Regions from separate parts of the Homo sapiens genome. Here region 2 is linked to region 1. Evidence: fine-mapped expression QTL. Tissue or cell type: cerebellar hemisphere. Region 1 holds a variant in brackets; the other region holds the start of a gene. All regions are shown on one strand. Distances are from middle to middle.

Region 1 (4,223 bases):
AGTCCCAGCTACTTGGGAGGCTGAGGCAGGAGAATGGCATGAACCCGGGAGGCGGAGAAAAAAAGAGTAATATATCATGACCAAATGGGATTTATCACAGGAATGCAACATTGCTCCAACATTGGAATAATTAATGTAGTTCACGACATAAATAGACTAAAAAAGAAAAAAAGGATCATTTCAATAGATGTAGAAAAATCATTTGACATAATTTCAAATCCATTTCTGGTAATACTCCCAGAAAACCAGGAAGAGAGGGGAAATTCTTCAACTTGATAAAGAGCATACATCTATGAAGAACCTTTAACTAATGTCATATTTAGTGGTGCATTCTCCCTCAGCTCAGGAGCAAGGCAAGAACGTGTGCTTATATTATTTCTACTTGAAATTGTATTGGAGGTGTATCCCATGCAAAAAGGTAAGAAAAAAAAGACATTCACATTGAATAGAAAGAAGTAAGACTATCTTTATTTGCAGATGATAAAGTCATCAAGTCATCTGATTGTCTAGAAAATCTTATGAAATTTCTACCTAGAAAATCTTATGAAATCTACAAAAAGCTACTAGAATTAATAAGTGGTTTAGCAAGATTGTAAGATACAAGATCACAATAAAAACATCAATTCATTTTATTTATTTATTTATTTATTTATTTATTTATTTATTTATTTTCAGATGGAGTCTCGCTCTGTCACCCAGGCTGCAGTGCAGTGGCAGGATTTTGGCTCACTGCAAGCTCTACCTCCCAGGTTCACGCCATTCTCCTGCCTCAGCCTCCCGAGTAGCTGGGACTACAGGTGCCCGCCACCATGTCCGGATAATTTTTTGCATTTTTAGTAGAGACCGGGTTTCACTGTGTTAGCCAGGATGGTCTTGATCTCCTGACCTCATGATCTGCCCGCCTCGGCCTCCCAAAGTGCTGGGATTACAGGTGTGAGCCACCACGCCTGGCACAAACATCAATTTATTTCCTTATACTAGCAAGGAATAATAGAAAATTGAAATGAAGCAAAACCATTTACAACAGCATGAGATACATAAAATACTTAAGAGCTAAATCTGACAAAAGATGTATGAGATATCACAATGAAAATTACTGATAGAAATTAAAGAAGATCTAAATAAAAGGAGAGATATAATGTGTTCATGGATAGCAAGACTCAATATTACAAAGTATCATTCCTTTCCAAATTGATCTGTAGATTCAATGCAATTCCAATCAAAATCCCAGCAGTCTTTTTTGGTGGAAATGTATAAGCTGATTCTAAAATTAACATAGAAGTGCAAAGGACTTGTAATAGCTAAAACCAGTTTGTAAAAGAAGAATAAAGTTGGATTTACACTACTTGACTTTAAGACTTAGAAACTGGCATTAATCAAGACAGTGTGAAATTGGCATCAAGAAAGAAAAACAGAACAATGAAACATAATACAGTACAGAAATAGACCTTCTCATATATGGCCGATTGATTTTTGACAGTGGTGCAAAGGCAATTCACTGGAGAAAGGGTAGTTTCTGTTTTAACAAACAGTGCATGAACATTTGTTTATCCATATACAGAAAAATGAACCTTTTATCTATACTTGGCACCATATAAAAATAAACTCAAAAGCGATCATAGACCTAAAACTATAAAACTTTAAAAATAAAACACAGGGGAAAATATTGTGATCTTGTTTCTGTTCTCTTTTTTTTGAGTCAGAGTCTCACTCTGCCACCGGGTCCAAGTGATTCTCGAGCCTCCGCCTTGCAAGTAGCTGGGATTATAAGCGCCTGCCACCATGCCCAGCTAATTTTTGTGTTTTTAGTAGAGACGGGGTTTCACCATGTTGGCCAGGCTGGTCTAGAACTCCTGACCTCAAACGATCGACCCATCTCGGCCTCCCAAAGTGCTAGGATTACAGGTGTGAGCCACCATACCCAGCCATAACTCCTGTTCTTTGAAAGGCACTTTTGAGAGAACAAAAAGACAAGCCACAAACTGGAAGAAGAATATTTGCAAGTTA[A/G]ATAACTGATAAAAGATGTATGTTTAGAATATTTTTTAAAAAACCTTTTAAAACTCAATATTAAGAAAACCAACAACTTAAACAAAAATGGGAAAACATTCTTCACCAAAGAAGAGAAACACATGGCAAATAAATTCACACAAAGATGTTCAATGCTCAACATTACTAGTCATAGGGAAATGCAAATTAAACCACAATGGAATATTACTATAAACCTCTTCCCTTTTATTTATTTATTTTTTTGAGATGGAGTCTTGCTCTGTCACCCAGGCTGGAGTGCAGTCGCGTGATCTCGGCTCACTGCAACCTCTGCCTCCCTGGTTCAAGCGATTCTACTGCCTCAGCCTCCCGAGTAGCTGGGATTACAGGCATGCGCCACCACACCCGGCTAATTTTTGTGTTTTTAGTAAAGACGGGGTTTCACCATGTTGGTCAGGCTGGTCTTGAACTCCTGACCTCAGGTGATCCGCCCACCTCAGCCTCCCAAAGTGCTGGGATTACAGGTGTGAGCCACCGTGCCCGGCCCTTCTTCCCTTTGTGTTAGAAAGATCTGATGTCACCACCTGAACTTATTTCCTGGGGCTGCTGTAGCAAATTATTACAATAATTTAAACAATAGAATAAACAATAGGATTAAAACAATAGAAAAGTATTCTCTCCGTTCTGGAGGCCAGAGGTCTGAATCATTGTGTCAGCAGGGTTGGTTCCTTCTGGGAGCTCTGAAGAAGAATCAGTTCCATGCCTCTTTCTTGGCTTCTGGTGGTTGCCAGCGATGCTTGGCATTCTTGGCCTTATAGACACATCACCAGCCTCTGCCTCTGTCATCACTTGGCATCCACCCTGAACGTCTCTGTGTCTTGGTGTCCAAATTTCTCTCTTGTAAGGACAGTATGGGATTAGGCCCACCCTAATCCAGTATGATTTCATCTTAGCTTGATTATATCTGCAAAAACCACTATTTTCAAATAAAGTCACATTCACCGGTACCAGGGGTTTGGAATTCAGTTTATCTTTTGGGGGGACACAGTTCAACTCACAACACGACCTTAACTAATAATCGAACTTGCATCATTTATAGTCAGACAACCAAACATTATGAGCTTCCTGATGTGATACATACAACATGACGTCATAGTGCCACCTTTGTATTCTTGCCAAAAATGTTTAACCCATATCTAATGAAACTGTTTAAATGAACTTCCAGGTTACAGGGAATATACAGGGTAGAGGAGTAAGTTAAATGACACCATGATAAAGCAATCTGACAAGTCCAGAGTAGGGGGAATATTCTGCAAGACAACTAGTGTGCTGTCCTCAAAAAGTCTATGTCAAGCCAGAGGCAGTGGTGCCTGTAGTCCCAGCTGCTTGGGAGGCTGAGGTGGAAGAATTGCTTGAACCCAGGAGCTGGATGCTATAGTAAGCTATAATCAAGGTCTCTCTCTGTGTTGTGCCACTGCACTCCAGCTTTATCAACATAGTGACCTCGTCTCTCTCTATATATACAAAGTCAATGTAGTGTCATGGGTTAAAAAATATGTGATGTGCCTGTGTGTGATCAGCACTGTTTAACAGAAACAAAGTGAACCACAAATGTGAGTCATATACAGTATGTAACTTTTAATTTTCTAGTAGTCACATTAAAAAAGTAAAGGCCAGGTGTGGTGGCTCACGCATGTAATCTCAGCACTTTGGGAGGCTGAGGTGGGTGGATCACCTGAGGTCAGGTGTTCAAGGCCAGCCTGACCAACATGGAGAAACCCTGTCTCTACTAAAAATACAAAATTAGCTGGGCGTGGTGGCGCATGCCTGTAATCCCAACTACTCAGGAGGCTGAGGCAGGAGAATCACTTGAACCTGGGAGGCAGAGGTTGTGGTGAGCCCAGATCGCGCCATTGTACTCCAGCCTGGGCAACAAGAGTGAAACTCTGTCTCAAAAAAAAAAAAAACCAAAAATGTAAAAAGAAACTGGTTAAATTAGTTTTAATAATTGTTACTAATTTATTAATATTAAATTAGAATAAATAATTAACCTAGTGTAATAGTTTTTTTATTACTGCTGTCATAAACTTATTAGTAATTTGTTATCTTACGGTGCTATAGGTCAGAAGTCCGATACAGGTCTCATCAGACTAAAACCAAGGCGTGGTAGGCTGTGTTCTTTTCTGGAGGTTCTGGGAGAGAATCAATTTCTTGCTCATTTGGGTTGTTGGCAGAAT
Region 2 (4,223 bases), 300 kb before region 1:
CATGTGTTCTCATTGTTCAATTCCCACCTATGAGTAGAATATGCGGTGTTTGGTTTTTTGTTCTTGCGATAGTTTACTGAGAATGATTATTTCCAATTTCATCCATGTCCCTACAAAGGACATGAACTCATCATTTTTTATGGCTGCATAGTATTCCATGGTGTATATGTGCCACATTTTCTTAATCCAGTCTATCATTGTTGGACATTTGGGTTGGTTCCAAGTCTTTGCTATTGTGAATAGTGCCGCAATAAACATACATGTGCATGTGTCTTTATAGCAGCATGATTTATAATCCTTTGGGTATATACCCAGTAATGGGATGGCTGGGTCAAATGGTATTTCTAGTTCTAGATCCCTGAGGAATCGCCACACTGACTTCCACAAGGGTTGAACTAGTTTACAGTCCCACCAGCGGTGTAAAAGTGTTCCTATTTCTCCACATCCTCTCCAGCACCTGTTGTTTCCTGACTTTTTAATGATTGCCATTCTAACTGGTGTGAGATGGTATCTCATTGTGGTTTTGATTTGCATTTCTCTGATGGCCAGTGATGATGAGCATTTTTTCATGTGTTTTTTGACTGTGGGATTTCAAGGGATTCAATAGTATAATGCCTGCCCTGCCACATACACCCTGTGCAGATGTATATTGGCTGGGTGGGGGGTGGGGGGGATACCTGTTGTGTTTATTTTGAAAATGCAAATCTCGGGGCAGTTTTTTTTTTCTGGTTTTTGGGCTGGGTGGCTTTACAAGGACACTTCCCCCTTCCCTCCTGGCACTAAGGGCAGTCACATCCTCACTGGAAGTAGTGGCTGGAGGTCCAGGGCATAACCCCTGACCCAGGGAGGATGAACCGGAAATTCAGTCTTGCAGAGCCCTCTGCACAGCACAGGAGCTGGGCAAAATTTGGAGAAAAGGAAAGGTCACGTTCCCACCTTGGCCACCCCTCTCAGGTGGGGCTGGGGTCTTCCCCTACCCTTCAGATGCATTGGCCCACCCAGCCCCCCATCACCAGGCCCTCCCTTTTGCCACCCCCATCCAATGCACCTTGGGTCTGGGTGGCTGGGACTGCACGAGAAGGGGTACTCCTGCCTTGCTGAGCTGCAGCCCGCCCCCCGCACCACCACCCGCCCAGCCAGAGGCCACTTCTAACCTGGGGAGACAGGATGCGAAAGCTGCTCACTACCCACCGGCTTTTGGGTGCAGCCTTCAGGCCTCTTGTTCCAGGAGGCCTGGAAAACGAGCGGGGCTGGAAGGCATTTAGATAATTGGAAGATGGGCCGGGCACAGTGGCTCGTGCGTGTAATCCCAGCACTTTGGGAGGCCTAGGTGGGTGGATCACGAGGTCAGGAGTTCGAGACCAGCCTGGCCAATATGGTGAAACCCCCGTCTCTACTAAAAATACAAACATTAGCTGGGCGTGGTGGCGCGCTCCTGTAGTCTCAGCTACTCGGGAGGCTGAGGCAGAAGAATCGCTGGAACCCGGGTGGCGGAGGTTGTAGTGAGCAGAGATGGCCACTGCACTCCAGCCGGGTTGACAGAGGGAGACTCCATCCCAAAAAAAACAAAACAAAACAAAAAGAAAGATAATTGGAAGCTGCTCCGCTTAAAACGAATGACAAATTCAGCCTCCCTGGTCTGGTCATCAAAGAAACACCAATTAAATAATATGGTGCCATTGGCACCAAGTTAGCCAAATCATCAATGGGCGTGATACTTAATTCGCCTCTCTGGTTGCTGACACCCTCCTCGACCCCCAGCCGCGGAAATCCATTCCTAGTTCCACCGTTTAGAGCCTCTCCTGGGGCTGCCGCGAAAATTGGGCCGGTTGGGGTAACATCTAACCTGGGGTCCCGCGAAAGAGCCCATCAGTTCCGCTTGGGGGCCCCACTGCCCTCCCACCTCCTACGCTGGGCGCTTCTCCTGCGAATGACGTTTTGCTGCTGCTCAGCGCAGCCAGTCGCGGAGGCGGGGAGGCTGCGCGGTCAGAGGCGCCTGGAGCGAGCGAATCCTGGCCCACCGCCTGCCCAACCGCGTGACCTTGATTGAGTTAATGAACTTCACGCCTCAGCGTCCAGGTCTGTAAAATGGGGTGTCTAACGCAGACCGTACAGCCCAGCTGGGTTTAGCAAACTTCCGGGAGCCAGTTGGAGCCTCTCCCCATCCCTAGCGGTGATCCCAGGTGACGACATGCCGCGGGGGGTCCTGCGGAGGCCACCCTAGGGCGTTGCTGCTGCCTTTGGGAGTGTGGAGCTCCAAACCATGTCGCGAGAGGCGGATTTTGGGAGGCCGGGATCCTCGCGCCAGGGGGATGTGCGAGGGTGTGGGATAAATCTTAATTCCTCCGGCCCACCCAAAGCCTGGAAATCCAGCCTCCGCGCCTCTTGCCCTGCGGGCCCCGCCCTCAGTCCCGCCCTCATCTAACCCGCTACCCCATTGGTGGCGTCCGGCGGCGCGGCTGCTGTTATTTTTCGAATATATAAGGAGGTGGAAGTGGCAGCTGCAACTAGAGGCTTCCCTGGCTGGTGCCTGAGCCCGGCGTCCCTCGCCCCCCGCCCTCCCCGCATCCCTCTCCTCCCTCGCGCCTGGCCCTGTGGCTCTTCCTCCCTCCCTCCTTCCCCCCCCCCCCACCCCTCGCCCGCTGCCTCCCTCGGCCCAGCCAGCTGTGCCGGCGTTTGTTGGCTGCCCTGCGCCCGGCCCTCCAGCCAGCCTTCTGCCGGCCCCGCCGCGATGGAGGTGCCCCAGCCGGAGCCCGCGCCAGGCTCGGCTCTCAGTCCAGCAGGCGTGTGCGGTGGCGCCCAGCGTCCGGGCCACCTCCCGGGCCTCCTGCTGGGATCTCATGGCCTCCTGGGGTCCCCGGTGCGGGCGGCCGCTTCCTCGCCGGTCACCACCCTCACCCAGACCATGCACGACCTCGCCGGGCTCGGCAGGTAGGACACCCCAAGGAGGCTGCATATGGGGGTGAGAGGCTAGGTCTGGAGTCCTGGGCCTCCTGGAGAACTGGGCATGGTAGTCGAATCCAGGAGGTGGAGTCCGGGGAGGCATCCTGAGCAGTGGAGAGGTACGCCCTTGTTCCCTCCTAGGGGCCCAGGACATGGGAAGTGAGACCTGGGCTGTGCCCCCCACACCTCCAGGTGACCTGCTCTCAGTCTGCACAAGCCTCTCCAAATCTTCTTTCCCCTCACTCCCTCCTCCCTCATTGTGCCTCCACCACGCTGCCTCCGTAATCTCTGCCCGGATAGCCACCATTTTGCCCCAGGATGGGAATCTCAAGCCTGGAGAGGGAACTTAAGGGTGGCAGAGCCGTGGAGCACTCACACATCCATGCCCCTGCTCCCTCCACCCCAGTTCTGCCCCCAGAATTAAGACAATTAATTAAACACTGATCCTGCTCCCTAAGTCTGCAAGGGGAGAGCTGGGTTGTTCCAGTAGGAGAACCTGGTCTTGGTCCATCCTTCAGGAAGGGTCCTGGAAAGGTGGGGGTCTGACAGTTTAGGGGAAGGCTCTCTGGGGCGGCTCTGCTAGACCACCAACCCTTAGGCTGGCCTCCAGCCAGGCAGCCTTGCTCACACCCTGGGCTCACCTTGCCCTGCTCCTGAGAGGACCTTTCCTAAACCAGTCAACGAAGAGAAGACGCTTTAGGGCCTCTGTAGAATGAACCTTCCTTGACCTGAGAAGAGGGGGCCCTCAGGGCCATTGCTTTCCCGGTGTAGTGTTTCGCTCAGTTCTTTTCTCAGCAAGGGAGTGGGAACGTGGGCTAGCCAGGCCTTGAGCCCCACGTTTACCTTTCTCCTTTCCCGGGTCCCTGTTCCCTTCCCAGCGAAACCCCAAAGAGTCAGGTAGGGACCCTGCTCTTCCGCAGCCGCAGCCGCCTGACGCACCTATCCCTGTCTCGACGGGCATCCGAATCCTCCCTGTCGTCTGAATCCTCCGAATCTTCTGATGCAGGTGAGGCCCAGGGGAGCCTGGGGAGATCTGCCTGTGTCAGGAGAGTTTGTGGGGGCTGCCTGGGCCTCCCAATTTCCCTGCCGATCAAACTAACATCCTCCCCACAACCTGGTGGGCCCAGGAGCCTCTCCCCCACCCTCCACAGAAATGGGAGGAAGACACACCTCTTGTGGGGCTCACCACACCCAACGCGGACTGGCTGAGTGGATGAGAGGGTGGGGCCCTCTACGGAGATGAGATCTTACCTATGTAAAACCACGCTCCAGAGTTCCTA

The links. PIP is the estimated chance that this variant, and not a neighbour inherited with it, causes the effect.
Region 2: CDC25B starts here. The variant in region 1 is the best candidate, but not a certain one, in a credible set for the expression of CDC25B in cerebellar hemisphere (GTEx, PIP 0.76).

Annotation. Positions count from the first base shown.
Region 1 is chr20:4,097,331-4,101,553 of GRCh38, forward strand. No RefSeq gene overlaps it. Among named protein-coding and RNA genes, the nearest start is that of SMOX, 49 kb to the right of the region's middle. The variant A/G (reference allele first, on the strand shown) is at 2,008.
Region 2 is chr20:3,793,801-3,798,023 of GRCh38, forward strand. It overlaps CDC25B (cell division cycle 25B), which reads left to right and starts at 2,510. Exons shown (of 16, transcript NM_021873.4): 1 at 2,510-2,931; 2 at 3,822-3,949. The coding sequence starts at 2,732. RefSeq lists enhancers at 1,506-2,237, 2,148-2,307 and silencers at 2,538-2,607, 2,648-2,827, 2,894-3,101.